2 separate regions of the Homo sapiens genome follow, and region 1 is linked to region 2. The links come from fine-mapping of genetic effects on gene expression. A gene starts in region 2. The other region holds a variant in brackets. All regions are shown on one strand. Distances are between the middles of the regions.

The links. PIP is the estimated chance that this variant, and not a neighbour inherited with it, causes the effect. A credible set is the group of variants that fine-mapping cannot tell apart.
Region 1: its variant is the best candidate, but not a certain one, in a credible set for the expression of S100P in whole blood (INTERVAL, PIP 0.66).

Annotation. Positions count from the first base shown.
Region 1 is chr4:6,664,660-6,669,659 of GRCh38, forward strand. No RefSeq gene overlaps it. Among named protein-coding and RNA genes, the nearest start is that of LINC02482, 6.7 kb to the right of the region's middle. The variant C/G (reference allele first, on the strand shown) is at 3,068.
Region 2 is chr4:6,691,359-6,696,452 of GRCh38, forward strand. It overlaps S100P (S100 calcium binding protein P), which reads left to right and starts at 2,520. Exons shown (of 2, transcript NM_005980.3): 1 at 2,520-2,712. The coding sequence starts at 2,575. RefSeq lists enhancers at 1,204-1,741, 2,051-2,787, 2,788-3,523, 4,726-5,094.

The DNA.
Region 1 (5,000 bases), 27 kb before region 2:
CGTCTCAAAAAAAAAAAAAAAAAAATTCTTTGTGGGTGATGCAGGTTCAGGAACCGCTGCACACCGAGCGCTTCCCGCGCCGCCTAGAGGTGATGGGAACAGCTCCTGAGGAAGGTGGCTCAGCCTCGGCCTGCAGCTCCTCCCAGGCCTCCCGCTCCCTGCGCCCAGCGGCTCTGGCCCGGCCGCGCACGCTCACACGAGCATTCACACGCACACTCATCATGCCCACTCACACACACTCATGCTCACACTCACGCTCGCACGCACACATTTACACACTCATGCTCACACACATACACAGGTTCACACATGCTCACATACATCCGTTCACATTCATGCTCACATGTACACTCATGCGCTCACACGCTCACACTCATACACGCTCACATAGTCATGGTCACACTCACACATACGCACACCCACTCACTCATGCTCACACATACACCCGCTGACACTCATGCTCACATGCATATGCACTCACATGTGCACTCACATGCTCAGTCATACACGCTTACACACATGCTCACACAATGTCACACACATACACACATTTACACTCGCTCACACTTATACCCACATGTATGCACATGCACACTCACACTCATCCACACCCACAATACATGCTCACACCCGTTCTTACTCATGTTCTCACACACACCACTTACATTTATGCTCACACCCATACACTCACATGTGCACTCATGCTCACATTCATACAGGCTCACAATACACAAGCTCACACTCATGCTCACTCCCACACATACATATGCTCACACTCGCTCACATGCTCACATGCGCATTCACATGCTCTCAGACACCTGCTCACACCACTCACACATGCTCACACTCACACGTGCACTCATGCTCACTCATACACATACATGCATTCGCATACACACACTCGCTCACACACCACTCATGCTCACACACACGCATACTCACACTCACTGGGTGATAGTGCAGTCTCCTCCCAGGCCTCCTTCCCGCTCTCCGCGGTGCTTTTTTTTTTTTTTTGGAGACGGAGTCTCGCTCTGTTGCCCAGGCTGGAGTGCAGTGGCGCGATCTCGGCTCACTGCAAGCTCCGCCTCCCGGGTTCACGCCATTCTCCTGCCTCAGCCTCCTAAGTAGCTGGGACTACAGGCGCCCGCCACCACGCCCGGCTAATTTTTTGTATTTTTTAGTAGAGACGGGGTTTCACCATCTTAGCCAGGATGGTCTCGATCCCCTGACCTCGTGGTCCACCCGCCTCGGCCTCCCAAAGTGCTGGGATTACAGGCGTGAGCCCGCGGTGCTTTTATCACAGTTCAGAAGCCTCAGCCACTTGACTGCAGCTCAACCCCACAGTCCCAGGCTGTTCCCCTTGCCGGGAGCCGCTGCTGGCGCGCCTGAGGGTTCAGCGTGGGTAGGTAGGTGCAGCCCACCCCCAGGGTGTGCCCTGAGGGTTCACCGGGGGTGGGTAGGAGCAGCCCATTACCACAGTGCAGCCTCACTCTGTGCGACCTTCACAGGCCAGGGATGCTGCAAATTTGGTCTTCTGAGTCCACCCCAGAGGGCATTCTGAGTCCCCCTCTCCGCTGCCCACCCCAGTTTGTCGCCATGTTGGCTCCTTGCCTCTCCTGCACCTCGGCTCTTCCTTTAGGTTCTGGCCCCTCTCGTCACCTCAGGCCCGAAACCTTTGGAAGCCTTAGTTCCTCCACAACGTCTTAACAAACTCACCCTCCTTCACCAAAGGGGAAGACGGGGTGGATGAGGGGATAAGAAAACCCTGTCTCATGGCAAGAACTTTTAAATATACTGAACGTGAAGCGGAAGCAGCCAGCCTGGGTGAAGACAGGGGATTTGTGGTCATGCCTTTGGTCTCATTTTTTTTTTTTTTTTTTTTAAGACGGAGTCTAGCTCTTTCGCCCAGGCCGGAGTGCAGTGGCGCTATCTCCGCTCACTGCAAGCTCCGCCTCCCGGGTTCACGCCATTCTCCTGCCTCAGCCTCCCGAGTAGCTGGGACTATAAGCGCCCACCACCGCGCCCGGCTCATTTTTTGTATTTTTAGTAGAGACGGGGTTTCACCGTGTTAGCCAGGATGGTCTCGATCTCCTGACCTCGTGATCCGCCTGCCTCGGCCTCCCAAAGTGCTGGGATTGCAGGCGTGAGCCACGTTTTCCTGATAGCACCACCCTAGGCTTACCTCTGTCCAGAAACCATTTCTTTTTCTTTTTTTTTTTTTTTTTTTGAGACGGAGTTTCGCTCTTGTTGCCCAGGCTGGAATGCAATGGCGCCATCTCGGCTCACCGCAACCTCCGCCTCCCGGCTTCCAGCGATTCTCCTGCCTCAGTCTCCCGAGTAGCTGGGATTACAGGCATGTGCCACCACACCCGGCTAATTTTGTATTTTTAGTAGAGACGGGGTTTCTCCATGTTGATCAGGCTGGTCTCGAACTCCCGACCTCAGGTGATCCTACTGCCTCGGCCTCCCAAAGTGCTGGGATTACAGGCGTGAGCCACCGCGCCCAGCCTCAGAAACCATTTCTTAACGTTAGCATTCCTTGCCATCCTGAGAGGCTGGGAGGGAGAAACAGTGGTGATTACAAACCCACAAGCCCCAGATCCTTCAGAGTTAAGAGTTCCGCTTGCATTTTACTCTAAGCAACCAGAGGTCAGGCAACTCTTCAGCAGTGCCTGGAATCCGTTTCATAAGTACATGCTGTCTCTTCCACGTTTCTGCAGAGTTTAGGTATTGCTAAACTCTGCTTCTGTGTAACAGGGACCCCTTTCCTCCTGTTACTGTGTCCCCTCAAAATCCATGTTGAAATCCTACCCGCAATGTGATGGGGTTAGGAAGAAGCTTTTGGGGGTGGCAAGGTCATGAGGGTGGAGCCCTCATGCATGGGATTAGTACCCTTATCAAAGGGACCCCAGAGAGCTCCCTCGCCCCTCCTGCCATGTGAAAACACAGAGAAAGGGCTCTCCCTCCCCAAACACTGAATCTGCCAGCGCCTTCATCTTGGACTTTCAGCCTCCAGCGCTGTGAGGAACCTTTGTTTCTAAGCCCCCCAGGCTATGACATTCTGTTA[C/G]AGCAGCCTGGTGGGCTGCAGCACCTCCAGATGCCTCACTCTTCTTTAGGTCTCCACTGAGAGCCTTCTCAAAGCCAATAGGCTTCCTTTGTCTCTTCAGCATCCTTCGGCAGCACTCCATTTCCAGATACGGATATCTCTTTCAGTGATCTTTTTTTTTTTTTTTTTGTGAGATGGAGTTTGGCTCTTGTTATCCAGGCTGGAGTGCAATGGCACGATCTCAGCTCACTGCAACCTCTGCCTCCCAGGTTCAAGCGATTCTTCTGCCTCAGCCTCCCGAGTAGCTGGGATTACAGGCACCCCACACCACGCCCAGCTAATTTTTGTATTTTTAGTAGAGACGGGGTTTCTCCACGTTGGCCAGGCTGGTCTTGAACTCCTGACCTCAAGTGATCCACCTGCCTCAGCCCCCCAAAGTGCTGGGGCGCCCGACCAGAGATCTTTTTACATAGTCTCCACAGCATGGCAATTTCAGGGGAGCCAGACTTCGTATATGGTGGCTTTGGCGTCCAAATGTACAAAACCCAGGAGAGTAAGCATCGGAAGTCCCATAGCATCTCTTTGCCATATCACCTTCACAAAGTCCCGCCAGGGTCAAAGGGAGGAGACACAGACTCCACCTCTTGATGGGCATGGCAAGGTTCTGGAAGAGCAGGTGCAACTGTTAGCAATTGCATTGTGGCCGTTTCTTGAAAATACAACGTGCAAGACACCACGTTTTACTGCCCCGCCCGGCTAGCAGTGGACGTGGAGACAGCTTTGTTGTTGTGGCCGTGATGCGTCCCACACTCCAGTGGCTCGCGCTTCCTGTACCAGACACTCCATTATGGCAGCTGCCTTTGGTGGAAGAATTTAGCATGACTCAGAATTGTGTCGAGCCCAGAATCTTACCAAACCCAGAATCAACATTGTTTCAGATAAATAAATAGTAAATTCTTTTGTTATTCCTAGACTATTCATGTAATGTGGGTTAAGTCATACACAATGTGGTCTGACCAGTTATTATGTGTAATGAGTGTTAAATGGAGTGTGGAACTTACCCAGATTTTCTGAATTAATTCTGATAGAAATAAATTCCACTTTCTATGTCTTTGCACAGTCGTTTGTGTAAAAGAGACCATCCTGTGCCATAATTAAGCACTTGAGGGAAGGCTTCTCCCAAACGGGCTGAAAGTTCACAGATGTGAATTACAGATGATCGGCATGAACTAAATGGCATCAGAGAAGGTGAAATTAAGGACTTTTTTTTCCTTTTGTCCTGGTTACCTCTGTCCACATCCCCTCTTCTCAGAGCCTGATGTGGCCTACAGCTGGCAGTAGTCTTGTAATCTTGATTGTAAAATGTACAAGCTGGCCAGGCGCAGTGGCTCACACCTGTAATCCCAGCACTTTGGGAGGCCGAGGCAGGCAGATTGCTTGAGCTCAGTTCAAGACCAACCTGGGTAACATAGTGAAACCACACCTCTACAAAAAAATACAAAAAAATTAGCCAGGTATTGTGGTATGTGCCTGTAGTCCCAGCTACTCGGGAGGCTGAGTTGCGAGGATCACCTGGGCCAGGGAGGTCGAGGCTGCAGTGAGCCGTGATCGCACCACTGCATTCCAGCCTGGGCAGCAGAGCAAGACTCTGCCTCAAAAGAAGAAAAATAGGACACAGAAGACACTTGGGTTTGGGTTGCAAAAGGGGTGAGGAGGGGTTTTGGAGATACAAAAGGAGTAAATATTGTTTCCTGAAGAGGATGCTTCAAGCCACAGTTTCTAAAGAGAAAATCCAGAACGTCTGGGCCTCCAAGCAAGATCCCTTCACCTGAGAGTGAGCAAATGAAGACATGGGGAAAAGAAGAGACTGGCATTTTAATGTATCCGGGATTATAATCCCACCTACGGCCATCAACTGGCTTTTGCTGCATGAGCCACCCTAAATCTCCGTGAC
Region 2 (5,094 bases):
TCCCAGCTACTGGAGAGGCTGAGGTGAGAGGATCACTTAAGCCCAGGAGTTGGAGGCTATAGTGAGCTGTGATTGAGCCACTGCACTCCACCCTGGGTGAGAAAGCAAGACACTGTCTCTAAAAGTAAATAAATGGGGCCAGGCACGGTGGCTCATGCCTGTAATTCCAGCACTTTGGGAGGCCGAGGTGGGCAGATCACTTGAGGTTAGGAGTTCAAGACCAGCCTGGCCAACATGGTAAAACCCCATCTTTACTAAAAATACAAAAATTAGCTAGACAAGGTGGTGCATGCCTATAATCCCAGCTACTCAGGAGGCTGAAGCAGGAGAATCACTTGAACCAGGAGGCAGGGGTTGCAGTGAGCCAAGATCGTGCCACTGCACTCCAGCCTGGGTGATAGAGCGAGACTCCGTCTCAAAAAATAAATAAAAATAAATAAATAAATAAAAATTTTAAAACAAAGTGATGACCGGACTGGCCAACATGGTGAAACCCCCAAAAAATTAGCCTGGTGTGGTGGTACATGCCTGTAGTCCCAGCTACTCGGGAGGCTGAGGCTGGAGAATCACTTGAAACCGGGAAGTGGAAGTTGCAGTGAGCCGAGATCACACCACTGCACTCCAGCCTGGGCAACAGAGTGAGACTCCATCGCAAACAAACAAACAAACAAACAAAAAATATATGTGTGTGTATATCTATATATATATGTGTGTGTATATACATATGTGTGTGTGTATATATGTGTGTGTGTATATATGTGTGTATACATATATGTGTATATATGTGTATATATATGTGTGTGTGTGTGTGTGTATATATATATCTATATAACGCAGTGAATGCCCTTCCTGAGGAGCACTGCCTCTGGGGTAGGGAGCCTCCTTCTCTCTCCCACTTCTCTGGCTGGGGTGGTATGATGGTGGCCTGTGCTGTGCGACCTTATCCCAAGAGGGAACTGCCCAGCTCAGGAGTGAGCAGAATGGACCTGTCCCTGCTCCCCAAGGGGTCACCAGTGGGGCCAGTCTGAGCCTCCACTGCAGGACACCTGGGCAGAGGCAGTGTGTTCTGAGAAAGCCGGCTCTTGTGAGACCTGCTGCTGCCATCGTGCACCAAGGTTTTTCTATGTTGAGCCACAGCCCCGTGGGGAGAGTCTCGGCCCATGTGCTGGTGGAGGCTGTGTTGGGAGAGGTTAGGGAACTTGCTGGAGGCTGACACTCTGGAAGATCTCTGCTGAGAGAGAGGCCTTTGAGTGTGGGCCTACTTTGACCGGGGCAGGATGTGAACACAGGCCCCTACCTCCATGCTCTCCAGGACTCGCTCAGCCTCCCAAGCACAGACCCTCTGAGTACCTCCGCTATAGAGACGGGGAGGGGTGTGACTGTCCCTGACTCTGCCCAGAGTCCCAGGAGCCTTTGTGCCGTCTAAGCCCTGTGGGTGATTTGGGTTTGGTAAGTGCCGGGGCTCAAAAAACAACACCCCAACGTGGAAGCCTCAGAAACAAAAGTTTCTCTGTCCTGCTCCCACCCTCCTGTCTCCAGCTCCTCCTCCTCTGAGAGGCTTCCCCAAACCCTGCCATAAAACCCAGAAATATGACTCCAGTTCTCCACTCCCTCCCCTTTCTGTGTAGAAACCAGCCTAAAGAAACCCTCTGGCCTGCTTTATTTGACTGTAGGTCATAAGAGCTCCATTCCAGAAAGAGTCCTGCCCCACACCTAGAAGGAAGGAGAGCTGCTCAGAGAGGCCCCAGGGAATCTGACTCAACAGGCCCTACCAGGCTCTCCTCTTGGTCTGTGAGCATCCAGCCTTACTTTTGTATCCAATCATATTTCCATACTTCGCTGAACTGTGTTTATGGATAGTTTCCACCAGATCTTTGGATCTTCATCTTGAAGGCTGCCGTGCCACATAAGCTATGATCAAATACATCTGTTATGCTCTTCTCCTATTCATCTGCCTTCTGCCCGTTGATTTTCAGCAAACTCCCAGAGGATGAAGGGGAGTTTTCTGTTTGGCCCCACAGGGGAGGAGCGAGCGAGATTGACGTGGAAGCTGGGCCTCTGAAGGACACAGAGTGCTCTAAGAAAGGGACGATGGGGCAGATCCATGTTCACAAACACGCCCATGTGAATTCACTCTCAGATGTCTCCTCGTGTCAGCACGCTGGGTGCCAGCACGCTCTGATATTGACACAAAGGGCCACGGAGTCACCACTCACTCCACACACACTCACCCCGTGCCCACTTACCCAGGGAGGGCCAGGAATGAGGATGCCACTGTGGCTCAGTGATGGCGCCGAGACACAGGTGAACACTGTAAAATGTGGATGCCTGGAGGCAGCCCACACCCTGGGCCTTGGCTGGGGGAAAGGTTCCAGAAACGTCATCACAACGATGCATTTCATCAGAACTGAGCACATGAATGGGGAGGGGCAGGACTTCCTGAATGTCCCAACCCCACTGTCCCACCCTCTGTGTCAATATGAGGCTGCCTTATAAAGCACCAAGAGGCTGCCAGTGGGACATTTTCTCGGCCCTGCCAGCCCCCAGGAGGAAGGTGGGTCTGAATCTAGCACCATGACGGAACTAGAGACAGCCATGGGCATGATCATAGACGTCTTTTCCCGATATTCGGGCAGCGAGGGCAGCACGCAGACCCTGACCAAGGGGGAGCTCAAGGTGCTGATGGAGAAGGAGCTACCAGGCTTCCTGCAGGTGAGCCAGGCCGGCAGTGCTGGACTCAGCGGGGGCTGGGGAAGAAGGGGAAGGCGTGGCAGGCAGAGGGCTGAGAGCTGCGGTGGGGTCGGCGGTCAAGGGGCTCAGAGGCAAGAGGGACAGATCCTGAAATGCCCTGGAAGCCCAGCCAAGGAACGGACCCACCCTGGCATAAAGGCAGGGGAGGCGGGAGCATCTGAGCAGGGAGAGGGTGTGGTCAGCTTGATCCTTGAAACATGGGGTTGACCCCAGTGTATTTGTGACAGGCCTGGTGGGAGAGTGGGACTCAAACCTGTGCAGTGGGGGCAGGGGCGGAATGCAATCCAGGGCTGCCATTTGCAAGTTTGCCAAGCTTGCCAAGCCCTTGAGCCCTCGGGGCTGTCCTCCAAGGCTGCCGGCCATAAACGCCCCAGCTCTGCCTCCCACTTGCCCGCTTTCCCTGCTCCCATTCCCAGGCCCCTTGTTGCCTGGTATTAGTGGGTCTGGCAGGAAGGACGGGAGGAGGCTCCATCCTGGCACCTGTCTGCGCAGAGCTGTGGACCTCCCTTGGGCTCCCTGCCAGGGAGGAGCCACCGGCCTGAGCCTCACAGAAGGCCCCTCAGGGCGGCCAGGACCAGCTTCCTTCCGCCCGGGGCAGCCTCCGGCTGGGCTGAACAGAAGCCGTACCCTCTCCATTTCCCCTTCCCTTTGACCCCTGTCCTCTCCTTCTTTCTCACTCCCCCACTTTCTTCCTTCCTTCCCCTCCCCTTCGGGCCCCACCAGACTCTGCCTACCTGCTAAGGGGCTAACCCACATAGATGCTGATAATCAAAAATGAAAGCCTGAAATTTTCAGCCCTAGAATCACTTCAAAGACATGAAACACTTCAGAATATTGCTTCTATTTTCTTTTCTTTTCTTTTTTTTTTTTTTTGAGACAAGATGTCACTCTGTCACCCAGGCTGGAGTGCAGTGGCAGGATCACGGCTCACTGCAGCCTCGACCTCCCTGGGCTCAGGTGATCCTCCCACCTCAGCCTACCGAGTAGCTGGGACTACAGGTGCATGTCACCATACCCGGTTAATTTTTGTATTTTTTTTAGAGACAAGGTCTCACCATGTTGCCCAGGCTGGTCTCAAACTCCTGTGCTCAGGCAATGCGTCAGCCTCGACATCTCAAAGTGCTGTGATTACAGGCGTGAGCCCCGACACCTGGCCTAGTTCTATTTTCTAAATGTGAATTCTGTAAAGATATCTTTTAAAAATAAAGTTCTGTTTTTGGTAGAAAATGTAAAAATAGATAAATATGGAGGGAAGAAATCCCCCCTGGAATACAGACGCTTCCTCTCCCTTCCAGCCTTTTCCCCATATGAACATTGCTGTGAGTGAGATTTACATGCAATGTAATTTCTTTTTGAGCTTAACATTACAACATAAATTCTCAAACTCTGATGTTCATTAAACACCCCAGCCCCATCCTGGGAACTTGGGCTTGGGGCTCGGGGTGTTCTGATAATGATCAAAGTATGAGAATTGAACCCATGAGGACTTTGATCCAAGATACTGGGGTGTGGGGAGGGGCAGGCACAGGTGTCCTGGGAACACACTTTGAGAAGCAATGGCAAAGCTGGGGGTCCAGCTAATGTGTTACATTAGAATCACCTCGGGGAGGCCCTGGGTGCCCTTCTCAGCCCTCCCTCCGGAGGCTGCTGAAGCCCAGCAAAGCCGGAGTCAGAGAACAATGTCCGCCTGAGGGCAGGGCTGGGCTGGGCTGGCCTTCTGGCCCTATCTGCTCCGTGCCCAACCCAGCGCCCCGCACAGTCGGAGCTTTGTAAATACGAGGTGACTGTCTGCCTACAAACTTTGTAAACATCACTTGAAATGGCCGCAGGGTATTGTGACATGGCCATACCACTATTTGTTTGCTATTGAATTTGTACTTCCCTGCCTTACTTTTGCTATTGCAAACCATGCTGTCACTAAGGTCTTCATGCACACAGTTGTGTCTTGGTCAGATGATATGTTTCTACCAATTTTAATTGTGTTTCTTTCCACCTGGACACACAGCTCTCTGGCCCAGGGCTGGGTCATCAGCACACCCTGCTGCTGCTGTTCAGATCTGCATCCTGGTCCCGCTTGGTCCCACAGTGAGAACGCTTTGCTATCACATGGGCAGGCTCTGAGAGCCCTGCCGGCCTGGCCTTCTCAAAGAAGACCTGAGAGCTTGGGACCCAAGCAGAGAGGAAGAACAGGGCTCAGGGTGCTTGCTCCATGCTCGCTCCACACCTGGGGCTCAACCCTGGCTTTCCCCGGCTCCCTGTGTGACTTCAGGGCAGGTCCCTTGGGCCCTCTGGGCCTTATCATCTTCATCTGTAACAGGGCGATGCCTCTGCCGTGTCTGGTGG